4 separate regions of the Homo sapiens genome follow, and regions 1, 2 and 3 are each linked to region 4. The links come from fine-mapping of genetic effects on gene expression. A gene starts in region 4. Each other region holds a variant in brackets. All regions are shown on one strand. Distances are from middle to middle.

Region 1 (2,745 bases), 38 kb before region 4:
TACGAGAATCACAAAAATAATTTTAAATCTCCTAGCAGCTACAATTAAAGAGTAAAAAGAAGTCAGTAAAATTTACTGTGTATTATTTAACACAACATTAAACTTTATCATTTCAACATGTAATATTATCAAAAATTATTAACAGGATATTTTGCATTTTTTTAAACCACACTTAATCTTCAAAATCTGGTGTGTGGGGCTAGCCTGTGGCCTGTACAATCGGTGTATGGTAGCTAATGCATGTAATCGTAGCACTTTGGGAGGCTGAGGAGGGTGGACTGCTTGAGCTCAGGAGTTCGAGACCAGCCTGGCCAACATGGTAAAACCCCATCTCTACAAAAAATACAAAAATTAGGCGAGGGTGGTGGCATGTGCTCGTAGTCCCAGCTACTTGGGGGGCTGAGGTGAGAGGATCACCTGAGCCCAGGAGGCGGAGGTTGAAGAGAACTGAGATGGCATCACTACACTCCTGCCTGGGCAACAGAGTGAGACCCTGTTTCTTAAAAAAAAAAAAATAGAATTTAGAGTCCAGAAATAAGCCCTTATATTTATGGTCAATTGGTGTTTTTTTATGGAAAATACATTTTTGATAAGGGCACCAAGACCATTCAATGGAGAAAGAATAGTAATACGGTTTGGCTCTGTGTCCACCCAAATCTCATCTCGAATTGTAATCCCCATGTGTCAAGGGAAGGAAGTGATTGGATTATAGTGGTGGTGTCCCCAGGCTGTTCTCATGACAGTGAGTGAATTATCACCAGATCTGATGGTTTTATAAATGGTAGTTTTTCCTGCACTCACACACGCTCCTTCTTGCCTGCTGCCATGTAAGACGTGCCTGCTTCCCCGTCTGCCTTGATTGTAAGTTTCCTGAGGCCTCCCCAGACATGTAGAACTGTGAATCAATTAAACCTCTTTCCTTTAAAAACTACCCAGTCTGGGGAATTTCTTTATAGCAGTATGAGAACAGACTAATACAAGTAGTCCCTTCAACAAATGAACTACAAAATGTAAATATACACATGTAAAAGAATGAAACTGGACCCCTATCTCACACCACAAAAATTGACTCAAAATAGATCACACAATAAGCCAGGCACAGTGGTATGCACTGTAGTCCTAACTACCTGGGAAGCTAAGGCAGAAAGATCACTTGAGCCCAAGTGTTCAAGGCTGCAGTACACTATGATCATGGCTATGGATAAGCACTGCACTCCAGCCTGGCAATACAGCAAGACCCAGTCTCAAAAAAATAAAAATAAAAAACCAACACATACACACATGATCACAGCAGAAAAGAACTAAAACTATATAATTCTTAGAAGAAAGATGTAAATCTTCACGACCTTGGATTAGGCAATGGTTTCTTAGAAATGACTCCAAGCCAGGAACAGTGGCTCACATCTGTAATCCCAACACTTTAGGAGGCTGAAGCAGGAGAACTGCTTGAGCCCAGCAGTTTGAGACCAGCCCGGGCAACATAGTAAAACTCTGTCTCTACAAAAAATAATTTAAAAAATTAACCAGGCATAATGGTACCGCCTGTAGCCCTAGCTACTCAGGAGGCTAAGGCAGTAGGCTCCCTTGAGCTCTAGAGGTCGAGGCTACAGTGAGCCA[T/C]GATTGTGCCACTGCACTACAGCCTGGCCAACAGTGCGAGATTCTGTCTCAGAAAAAGAAAGAAAAGAAAAGAAAAGGATACCAAAAGCACAATAAGCCAAAGAAAAAGTAGATAAACTGGACTTCATTTAAAGTTAAAAACTTTTGTACATCAAAGAACACCATCAAGAAATTGAAAAGAGGCCAGGTGCAGTGGTGTATGCCTGTAATCCCAGCACTTTGGGAGGCTGAGGTGGGTGGACCGCTTGAGCTCAGGAGCTCGAGACCAGCCTGGGCAACATGGCAAAACCCCGTCTCTACAAAAAAAAGTACAAAAAATTAGCCAGATGTGGTGGCATGTGCCTGCAGTCCCAGCTATTCAGGAGGCTGAGGTGGGAGGATCACCTAAGTCCAGGAGGTCAAGGCTGCACTGAGCTGTATCATGCCACTGCACTCCAGCCTAGATAACGAAGTGAGACCCTGTCTTGGGGGGGAAAAAAAGAAATCAAGATAATTAAAAGAGCAATCTCCATCAAAATACCAATGACATTGTTCACAGAAATAGAAAAAATATCCTAAAATTTGTATGAAACTGCAAAAGACCCCAAATAGCCAAAGCAATGCTGAGCAAGAAGAACAGAGCTGGAGGTATCACACTACCAAACCTTAAAATATACTACAAAGCTGTAGTAAGCAAAACGACACGGTACTGGTCTATAAAACAACTGGTATGTGTCTATAAAAACAGATACACAGACCAATGGAAAAGAATAGAAAACCCAGGAATTAACCTGCATATCTACAGCCAACTGATTTTTGACAAAGGCGCCAAGAACATTCATTGGGGAAAGGACAGTCTCTTCAACAAATGGTGCTGTGAAAATTAAATATCCATATGCAGAAGAGTGAAAATAGAAACTAGACCTCCACCTCTCATCCTATACAAAAATGAACTAAAAATGAATCAAAGACCTAAATATAAGACCCAAATGATAAAACTACTACAAAACATAGGGGAAATGCTTCATCACATTGGTCTGGGAAAAGATTTGATGAGTAACTGAAAAGCACGGACAACAAAAGCAAACATAAATGAATGGGATTATATCAAGCTAAAAAGCTTCAGCAAAACAAAGGAAACAATAGAAT
Region 2 (2,705 bases), 130 kb before region 4:
CACACATCTGCAAGTCCAGGCCTTCGCCCAGGGGTCCGGCGAGGCTTGCGCTCAGGAGACAGAACCACATTCATGCTTGATGGCTCCTAGAATTGACACAAATCCCAACCTGGCCGCCTGTGTGTCACCAGAGCACGGCGAGCTGAAAGGCCCAGCGTATGTCGGGGCTCACTCAGGCTCCCTCCAGCCCAGCTGGGGCTGGCATGTCTAGTCCCAAAGCCAGGCCCCGTGGGTCCCCCACTTCCACACCCTCACTGAGCCACCCAACCCTGCTAGAAAGGCCCTACTCCCAGCCTGGCCCCCATATCATCACGGACACACCCCAACGTCTAGCTCTGCAGGCTCCGCGGGACAAGCCCTAGAACCAGAGGGTCAGGCTTCCAGGCCCGGCTGCGGCTTGCACGTGGCTCAGTGTGGTCACAAGAGCCAGTGCCCTTCACGTGAGCCGGGCCCAGGCCAGCCAACCAGCGTGCCTGGCAGCAGGGAGCAGCCCGAGCCACGGTGTCCTGAAGAAACTGCTCGAGGCGAGGGGAGAGGGGACGTTGTTTTGTTACGAAGGTGACGGGGAAGCAGACCGGCTTAATTCATGCACAAACGACTCAGTTGGTTTCTGTAAAGTACTGAGCAGCTCTGTCCTGCTGGGAGTCTGGTCATGTGTGGTAAACAAGCAGCACCCCCAAGCACACAGTGTGCGCCCCCATTTCCCGCTTGCTGCCAGGGCCCTGTGATGCGGGGAGGGCCGATCACTGCCCAAGGGGCCACTGGGCCTCAGCTGCAGAGAGACCATGGCCCCAGGCTGGCCCAGGTGGCCAGCGCCAAGTGAGGGTGCCCAGGCCGAGGGTGGAGCAGCGCAAGGCTTGCCCGCCGCCGGGAGAGGGGACGCCGTCCCAGGCTGCTGCCCACTGTGTTGAGTACATGAGAGGAAGACACACTCAGAACAGAGACCCCGATACAACCAAACACAAAGACAAAGCGCGTGACACAGGCCATCCCATCCTCAAGGACCCCCATCACTCAGGTTCAAGGACAAAGTGTGTGACATAGGCCATCCCATCCTCAAGGACTCCTGTCACTCAGGTTACGTCTGTGGGACCCTCAGGTGGGCCCCATGGCGTCCCGCCAGGAGCGTCTGCCTGGGAAGGGCTACTGGAGACGTCCCAGTGACACGCACTGCTGCTTCTGGGGGCCACACCAGGACTTCAACCCAGAGGGGAGGAAAC[G/A]GTTCTTACTAGACCAAGATGTTGCATATCCTTCATCTAATATTATACATTTTGTGAAGGGGAAGTTGCAGGGATGTCCCTGTTGTTAACCCCTGGCCTCAGGAAAACTACCTGAGGGCAGGTAGGGGACAGGCCTCAGGTGGGGGACACCTTCGAGGGAACAGTAGTTTTCCGCAGCTTCTGCAGGAAGTCCTTCCTTTATGAGCAGGGACACACGACTCCCTCACAGGGCAGAACCAAGGATACTCATTCCCCCAAAGTAATCCCAGGAGAGCGGGGAAAGGAAAGGCAGATAAGAACAACGGAACGCTTCGACCGCGAAAGGGCGCGGCGGGCCCCTCACGGGAGCTCAGGGCACAGGGGTGCGACGGAGGGCACTTCCAGCAGGCACTGGGGCGAAGGCACACCCAGGACAGATGGCAGCACCAGAGACAGGTGGGCCACCGGGCACCCACCAAGCTGTCCCCGCGCGGCCACGGGGAGAGCCGAGGCAGGCAGTCTGACGTGCACGGCCCAGCTGGCCAATTGTGGGCGCGGCTTGTGGGCGAGTGGCACAGGTGTGACAGTTCGCACACATTGGTTTTGCCTAAGAAGCACCCGTCGCGTGTAGCACCCATCAGTGGTAAGAGCACCATGAAGCGTGGTGCATAGCAAAAGGGGTGCAGGGGGCAGGCTCCAGGCTTCTAATCACAGTTGGACACTGAGAGACAGTAAACAGTGAGTTGAGAAAATGCCATCTGGGCAGGCACAGGCTGGGACGACGGGCCCCGTGGCCACCCTTCCCGCCAGGGTGGTGGTCAGGAGCGCCCGTTGGTCAGCCTGGGCAGGCCCCCGAGCAGCGGTCTCTGGAATGCTCAGAGGGTTCTGCTTCGGGCTGTGGGGGTGCCCACGGCCCCGGTGGGGACACGGAGAGGCTCGGCTTCTGTTCCACACCTGCCTCCCTCAGGGTGGGACCAGGCCGTACTTGGACCAGGCGGCTCACTCGTGGGGCCTAGAGATTTGGAATCTGTGGTAATTAAGCAGCGGAGGCTCCAGAAGCCGACGGTGGAGCCTGGCTTCCCCTCAGCAGGTGCAGAGGTGTCTGAGGGCCCTTGTAGAGACAAAGATCTAGTGGTGGAGAGAAAAGTCTGGTTAAACTAGCACTTTCTAGAATGATGCTCAATGCAAACCCAGGGTGGAGAAGCAGCATGTCCCATCTAAGGCACGTGGGCCGTATGCCACCAGCTCTACGCACAACGTTGCTTTCGGAGACCGTTGACGGCATGCAGCAAGATGACGGGATGGAGAAACACACCTGCGGGCCTCCCTCAGCAGTCACCCGCCCACCCCTGACATGGAGACCGAAGGCCGGTGCTGTCAGCAACAGAGAGCTCGTCCGAACACATGGGGCAGAATCCAAACACCTACAGGATTTTGTTTAGAACTCCAAAGTTCAACGGATGCCCTATTTTAGGGTGAAAACAATTATAAATCTGAAAATGATGC
Region 3 (2,500 bases), 96 kb before region 4:
AAAACCTTTCAACTTTTAATTTTATTTTTCCCTTAGAAAACACAAGTATTCTCATTCTCACTCTTTTTTTAAGAGACAGGGTTGACTGGGAACAGTGACTCACCTCTGTAATCCCAGCACTTTGGGAGGCCGAGGTGGGTGGATCACCTGAGGTCAGGAGTTTGAGACCAGCCTGGCCAACACGGTGAAACCCCATCTCTACTAGAAATACAAAAAAATTAACCGGGTGTGGTGGCACATGCCTGTAGTCCCAGCTACTCGGGAGGCTGAGGCAGGGGAATCGCTTGAACCCGGGAGGAGGAGGTTGCAGTGAGCTGAGATCACGCCATTGTACTCCAGCCTGGGCAAGAGAGTGAGACTCTGTCTCAAAAAGAGACAGGGTGGGTTTCACTCTGTCACCCAGGCTGGAGCGCACTGGTGCAATCATGGCTTCACTACACCCTTAAACTCCTGGGCTCAAGCGATCCTCTCACCTCAGCCTCCTGAGTGGCTTGAACTACAGGCGCATGCCTCCAAGCCCAGGTAACTTTTTAATTTTCATTTTTGTAGAGATGGGGTCTCCATATGCTGCCCACTCTGGTCTCGAACTCCTGAGCCCAAGTGATCCACCTGCCTCAGCCTCCCAAAGTCCTGGGATCCCAGGCATAAGGCACCATGCCCAGCTCCCTCTCACTCTTTCTAACAACACGATCTACAACATCTTAGTCCAAAGGTTATTTCTAAGAAACTCCTGCCTGTTGCTCTATGAAAGTGGAATAACAGGAGCTTAATGTGCCTTTTTGGACTGCTGAGAGAAATAAAATCAACAGCTGTTAAGAGTTAAAAATAAACTAATTTGGAGCCAAAGCTTATCTTTCATAAACATGACTAAAAAAAAAAGAAGGTCATGACTTGAGATACTAAAGTCAACAGAACTTTGGAATGGAAAGGATCTGAGACTATTTACTCAAAATGTCTCTGTTTACAGATGAAGACCAGAGGCCCGCCCACCCCTGGATGACCTGCTGACGGGTGAGGATCCGGGTCACCCGGGGCCCAGACAGCTCCATTCT[C/T]TCCATGAGGGTCCACAACTTGAGTGCATCTCGTTCATGATTCTTTGATAAAACTAGCCATTTTTCTTCAGCTACTTATGTCATTAAAAAATAGGGATAATGATTCTGCATAACAAAACAGAGATACTAAAAAAACATCTCAGCCATCGTCGCGAGCTTCTCTCTCACTCACACGTTAGGCACATGTTAACAAGGCGGCCGAGTACCATGCTAGGCCAAGGCACAGAGTGGAGGGGAGGGGCTGTTTTCACTCAAGGAACTAACCAAGCCTGCAGCAGCAGCAGGTAAATGCAGAGAAAGAAAAGGTACAGGGCCAGGTGGCCAATTCCATCTCTCCCCCTTCCAGAGCGGCTATACTGGATGCCTGTGTGCCTGGCAGCCCAGGGACACTGACTACCAGCAATCCTCAAATCACTGCACTCACCTGGGCTGCTCTGACCAACAAACCCAATCTGCAAGGTGCTTTAGACAGGAAAACCCCAGAGTAAGAATTTTATTGTACAACTTAGTGACCTGCATTTAAAAAATGGTTAGGTATATTACTCAAAGTAGGGAAACACACATTTTTATTGATATTTTAAGCACTTTAAGAATGAATTGCTGGGTGCGGTGGCTCATGCCTGTAATCCCAGCACTTTGGGAGGCCGAGGCAGGTGGATCACCTGAGGTCAGGAGTTCGAGACTGGCCTAACCAACACGGTGAAACCCCGTCTCTACTAAAAATACAAAAATTAGCTGGGCGTGGTGGCTCGTGCCTGTAATCCCAGCTACTCGGGAGGCTGCGGCATGAGAATTGCTTGAACCTGGGAGGTGGAGGCTGCAGCGAGCCAAGATCGTGCCATTGTGCTCCAGCCTGTGCAACAAGAGTGAACTCTGTCGCAAAAAAAAAAGAAAAAGAAGAAAGAAAGGAGAGAGAAAGAAAAGAAAAGAATTGTTTCAAACTCCAAGTATACCTGGCAGGGTACAGCAGCACATGGATGACTGTCAGTCTCCATGAGAAGGACCAGGCCCCAGGAGAGAAGCTGGTGGCAGGCTGGGCAGCCCCATCCTCTGAATGTGCAGAGACGCCCACGGGCTCTAGCTGAGGACAGCCACAGGGGGCGAGAAGGGGCTAATCTCACTCATGTCTAATGACTTAAAGATATCACAGGGGGCCTGGGGGGCAGGGAGCACAAACTCAAATGAACCCCTCAGCCTAGCGAGTCTGAAGGTAAAACCTAGTGTAAGAGTTGAGTAGAAGCTGTCTGGGATAAAGACCTGCAATGACGGAAGTGACCCAACCACAGACAGCCCTGCCACAGACAGGCATCTCAGCACTTTGCTCACATCAACCCCTTACTCCTCACACCAGCTCCCTGCGGTCTTAGCAGGTGATATGATTATTACAGGTGAGGGGGTGAAGTAGCTCACAGAGTTCACACAGTAGGGAAGTGGCCAAGTGGATCTGA
Region 4 (2,745 bases):
AACATTTACATTGTCACAACGCGGCGAAAAGGTACACATTTCCTCTCATTTGAGAAAAGAACGCTGTACACTATTTTGCCAGACATCCTACATATGATGCAGTCTGTTCACAGGCCATTTTCAAAGACGTGAGAGACATGAGAAGATCTCAGGACGAACTGATGGTCCACTTGGCCATTCCCTACAGTAAGAATTTTATAGACAAATACAGGGTAACAGCAAACAACATTTCCAAACGCTCCGGCAGTGTGTAGTCGCAGCAAATGCTAGGAAAAAAAATAAATAATGGCTCCTCTTCAGTTGTATGCCGTGAATGTAAATTAAGAAGCCGCTACAACGCTCGACATAACCTTTCTGACGCCACAAAAATGAATGAATTATATCCATACACACACACAGGCACACACACCACGCACCACGCATCACATGTCATTCTGAAAACTGATTCTGAGCTTAATTCGAAAAACGTGAAATACAACTGGTCCCGTCAACAGCTCGTAATCTGAAGGTTTCTTGCATTTCCAAGCACGTCCATAACACCTCATCCGTTTCCAGTTTGTTACTGTTTCCAACCGAAGGGAGAGAATTTTCCACACAGAATTATCTCCTCGGGTCCAAATACTAGACCGAAGTCCCCACACGGGGCTGGCTGGCGGCGTGGAACCGGCCAGCCCGCCGAGAGCCGCCTGGCGCCCGCGGGGAAGACGCAGAGCCCGCGGCCAGGAGCCGCCCGGTGCCCCGGGAGTCGCCGGCCCTCGGCGGCCGCGCGAGGGGGATTCGCGCCCTCTGCCCATACCCGGACCCCCGCGCCGCCCGCCAAGCGGTCGGAGGCGCCTCTGAGGCGGAATGACTCAGGACCAACTTTCCAATAACGCCCGGGCCCCCCCGGCCGGCCCGGGCAGCGCGCTCGGCCACGCAGCCCCTGAGCCGCCCGTCCCCCCGCGTGAAACCCGCGGCCCCGCGGGGTGCCGGGTCCTCAACGCCAGCGGGGGTCACGGCCGTAGCGAGGCCTGCGCGCCCCGTTTCCTGAAAAGGTGCGGGCGCCCCGGCCCCCTCGGGCCCCGAGCCCGGCCTCCGGGACAAAGTTTGCCGAAGTTGAGGCGTCCGGAGGCGGGAGGCAGCCCGGCTGGGGCGCGGGGCCAGGCTGAAGCCGCGCCCCGCCGTCGCCGCTGGGACGGGCCGGGCCTGCGCCGCGCCGGGCCCGCGCCGGGCAGCCCCGAGGCCCCCGGGCCCCGCCGCCCAGGGCGCGGGATGGAGGCGACGGGGATGGAGGCGCCCGGCCGCGCGCCGGAGGCCCGCCCGCCCGCCGCGGCCCCTTACCTCGCGGTCCGTCGCCGCTCGGCCGGCTCAGGGGCGCCGGGCGCGTCCTCCGCCGCGGTCCGCAGCGTTCTGCTCCCCGGGCTGCCCCATGGCGGGGGGCGGGGAAGAGCCGGCGGCCGCCGCGGCTGCCGCCGGCTGGAAAGTCCCGGCTGGGCTGCAACCCCGGCTCGCGCACGCGGCGGCCGCGCCGCGCTCCCTCGCTCCCTCGCTCCCTCACGCAGCCCCGCGCAGGCACTTCCTCTCGCGCGCTGGAAATCCCCGGCGCGCCCGCCGCCCCGCCCCCGCCGCCCGCGCGCGTGGGAGCGGCAGGAGCCCGCGAGCGCCGCCGGCCCCACGCGCCCGCCGGCCCCCCGCGCGCGCCCGCGACCCGTTGCTAAGGGCCCTAGCGCCCGGCGGCCGCCCGCCCGGCCTTAGCAACGGCGGCGCCGCGGCGCGGGGCGGGGACGGCCCCGGGCGCCCCCCGCCTCCCTCCCGTCCCCGCCGCGCGCCCCGCGGGCCTCCTCGCTCTGCGCCGCCCCCGCCGCGCCCCCGCCGCCGCGCGTCCCCGCGTCCCCGCCTTTCCGGGTCAAAAAGCCACGCAGGCCGCGTGGGGGCCGAGAGGTGCTGGCGCCGCTCCTCCCCGCGGCCACCTCGCCCGCACCCCCCACGCCAGCATAGCATACGCAGCCCCCGTGCGTGCACGCCCGTGTGCCCATGGCCACACGCGACCCCTACGCACACGCACGGGTCCGATATGCGGCCCCCCGCACTGTCGCGGACGCATACACGACGGTCACATTCCCCTCAAGCGGACACGCACACACACGCTCACCAACACCGTGCGCACGCGTACCAGGCCACGCACCCTCGCGCACACGCAGGTGGGGCTGAGGGTGACTCAGGCCGTGGAGCCCCTTTTCGCATGCAGAGGGCAGGGCTCCACATTAGTTTGGTGGCACTTTCCTTTCTCCCTCCCTTGGACCCTCCCACGCCCCCGGAGTGGTGTCTTGCTCACGGGTGGACAGGGTAGCCAGTTTGCCACGTGCCCCCAGCGTCCTCGGCGGTCCTGGCTGCCCCTGCGCCCCCTGCACCCTCCACCAGGCCGCTGGGGCCTGCGCATTTCTCCCGAGGCCTCTGCCTTCTGCCCCAAAGGCATCAGTGGTGTGTCAGTGATTCACCTAGGCCCACCAAGGCAGCACCCAGCCTGGCTGGGCCTGGCGAGGTGGGAAGCGAAGGGAGGGCTTCTGGGAGGCTCTGGGCCAGCTGAGGGGTGAGGCCTTCGCTGGAGTTTGCAAGTCAGTGGTGAGGGGACAGAAAGGACTTTGCATTTTTCACTTCTCAAGAAGGCTTATAAAGAGCCCTACCCCAGAGCTGAGACCAGTGTGAGTAGCCAAGGCCAGTCTGCCTTCTTGTATTGCTCCAGTGACTCATGTGAGTGGAGGCAGG

What was found. PIP is the estimated chance that this variant, and not a neighbour inherited with it, causes the effect.
Region 1: its variant is fine-mapped to the expression of TRAF3 in whole blood (TOPMed, PIP 0.92).
Region 2: its variant is fine-mapped to the expression of TRAF3 in whole blood (INTERVAL, PIP above 0.99).
Region 3: its variant is fine-mapped to the expression of TRAF3 in whole blood (TOPMed, PIP above 0.99).

What each region holds. Positions count from the first base shown.
Region 1 is chr14:102,813,876-102,816,620 of GRCh38, reverse strand. The region is part of intron 1 of TRAF3 (TNF receptor associated factor 3); the gene reads right to left. Among named protein-coding and RNA genes, the nearest start is that of TRAF3, 38 kb to the right of the region's middle. The variant T/C (reference allele first, on the strand shown) is at 1,618.
Region 2 is chr14:102,906,621-102,909,325 of GRCh38, reverse strand. It overlaps TRAF3 (TNF receptor associated factor 3), which reads right to left. Exons shown (of 12, transcript NM_145725.3): 12 at 1-2,705. Among named protein-coding and RNA genes, the nearest start is that of AMN, 15 kb to the left of the region's middle. The variant G/A (reference allele first, on the strand shown) is at 1,221.
Region 3 is chr14:102,872,142-102,874,641 of GRCh38, reverse strand. All of the region lies in intron 4 of TRAF3 (TNF receptor associated factor 3), which reads right to left. Among named protein-coding and RNA genes, the nearest start is that of AMN, 49 kb to the left of the region's middle. The variant C/T (reference allele first, on the strand shown) is at 1,053.
Region 4 is chr14:102,776,251-102,778,995 of GRCh38, reverse strand. TRAF3 (TNF receptor associated factor 3) reads right to left here and starts at 1,547. Exons shown (of 12, transcript NM_145725.3): 1 at 1,321-1,547. RefSeq lists silencers at 705-764, 1,005-1,054, 1,265-1,874, 1,965-2,024 and an enhancer at 2,735-2,745.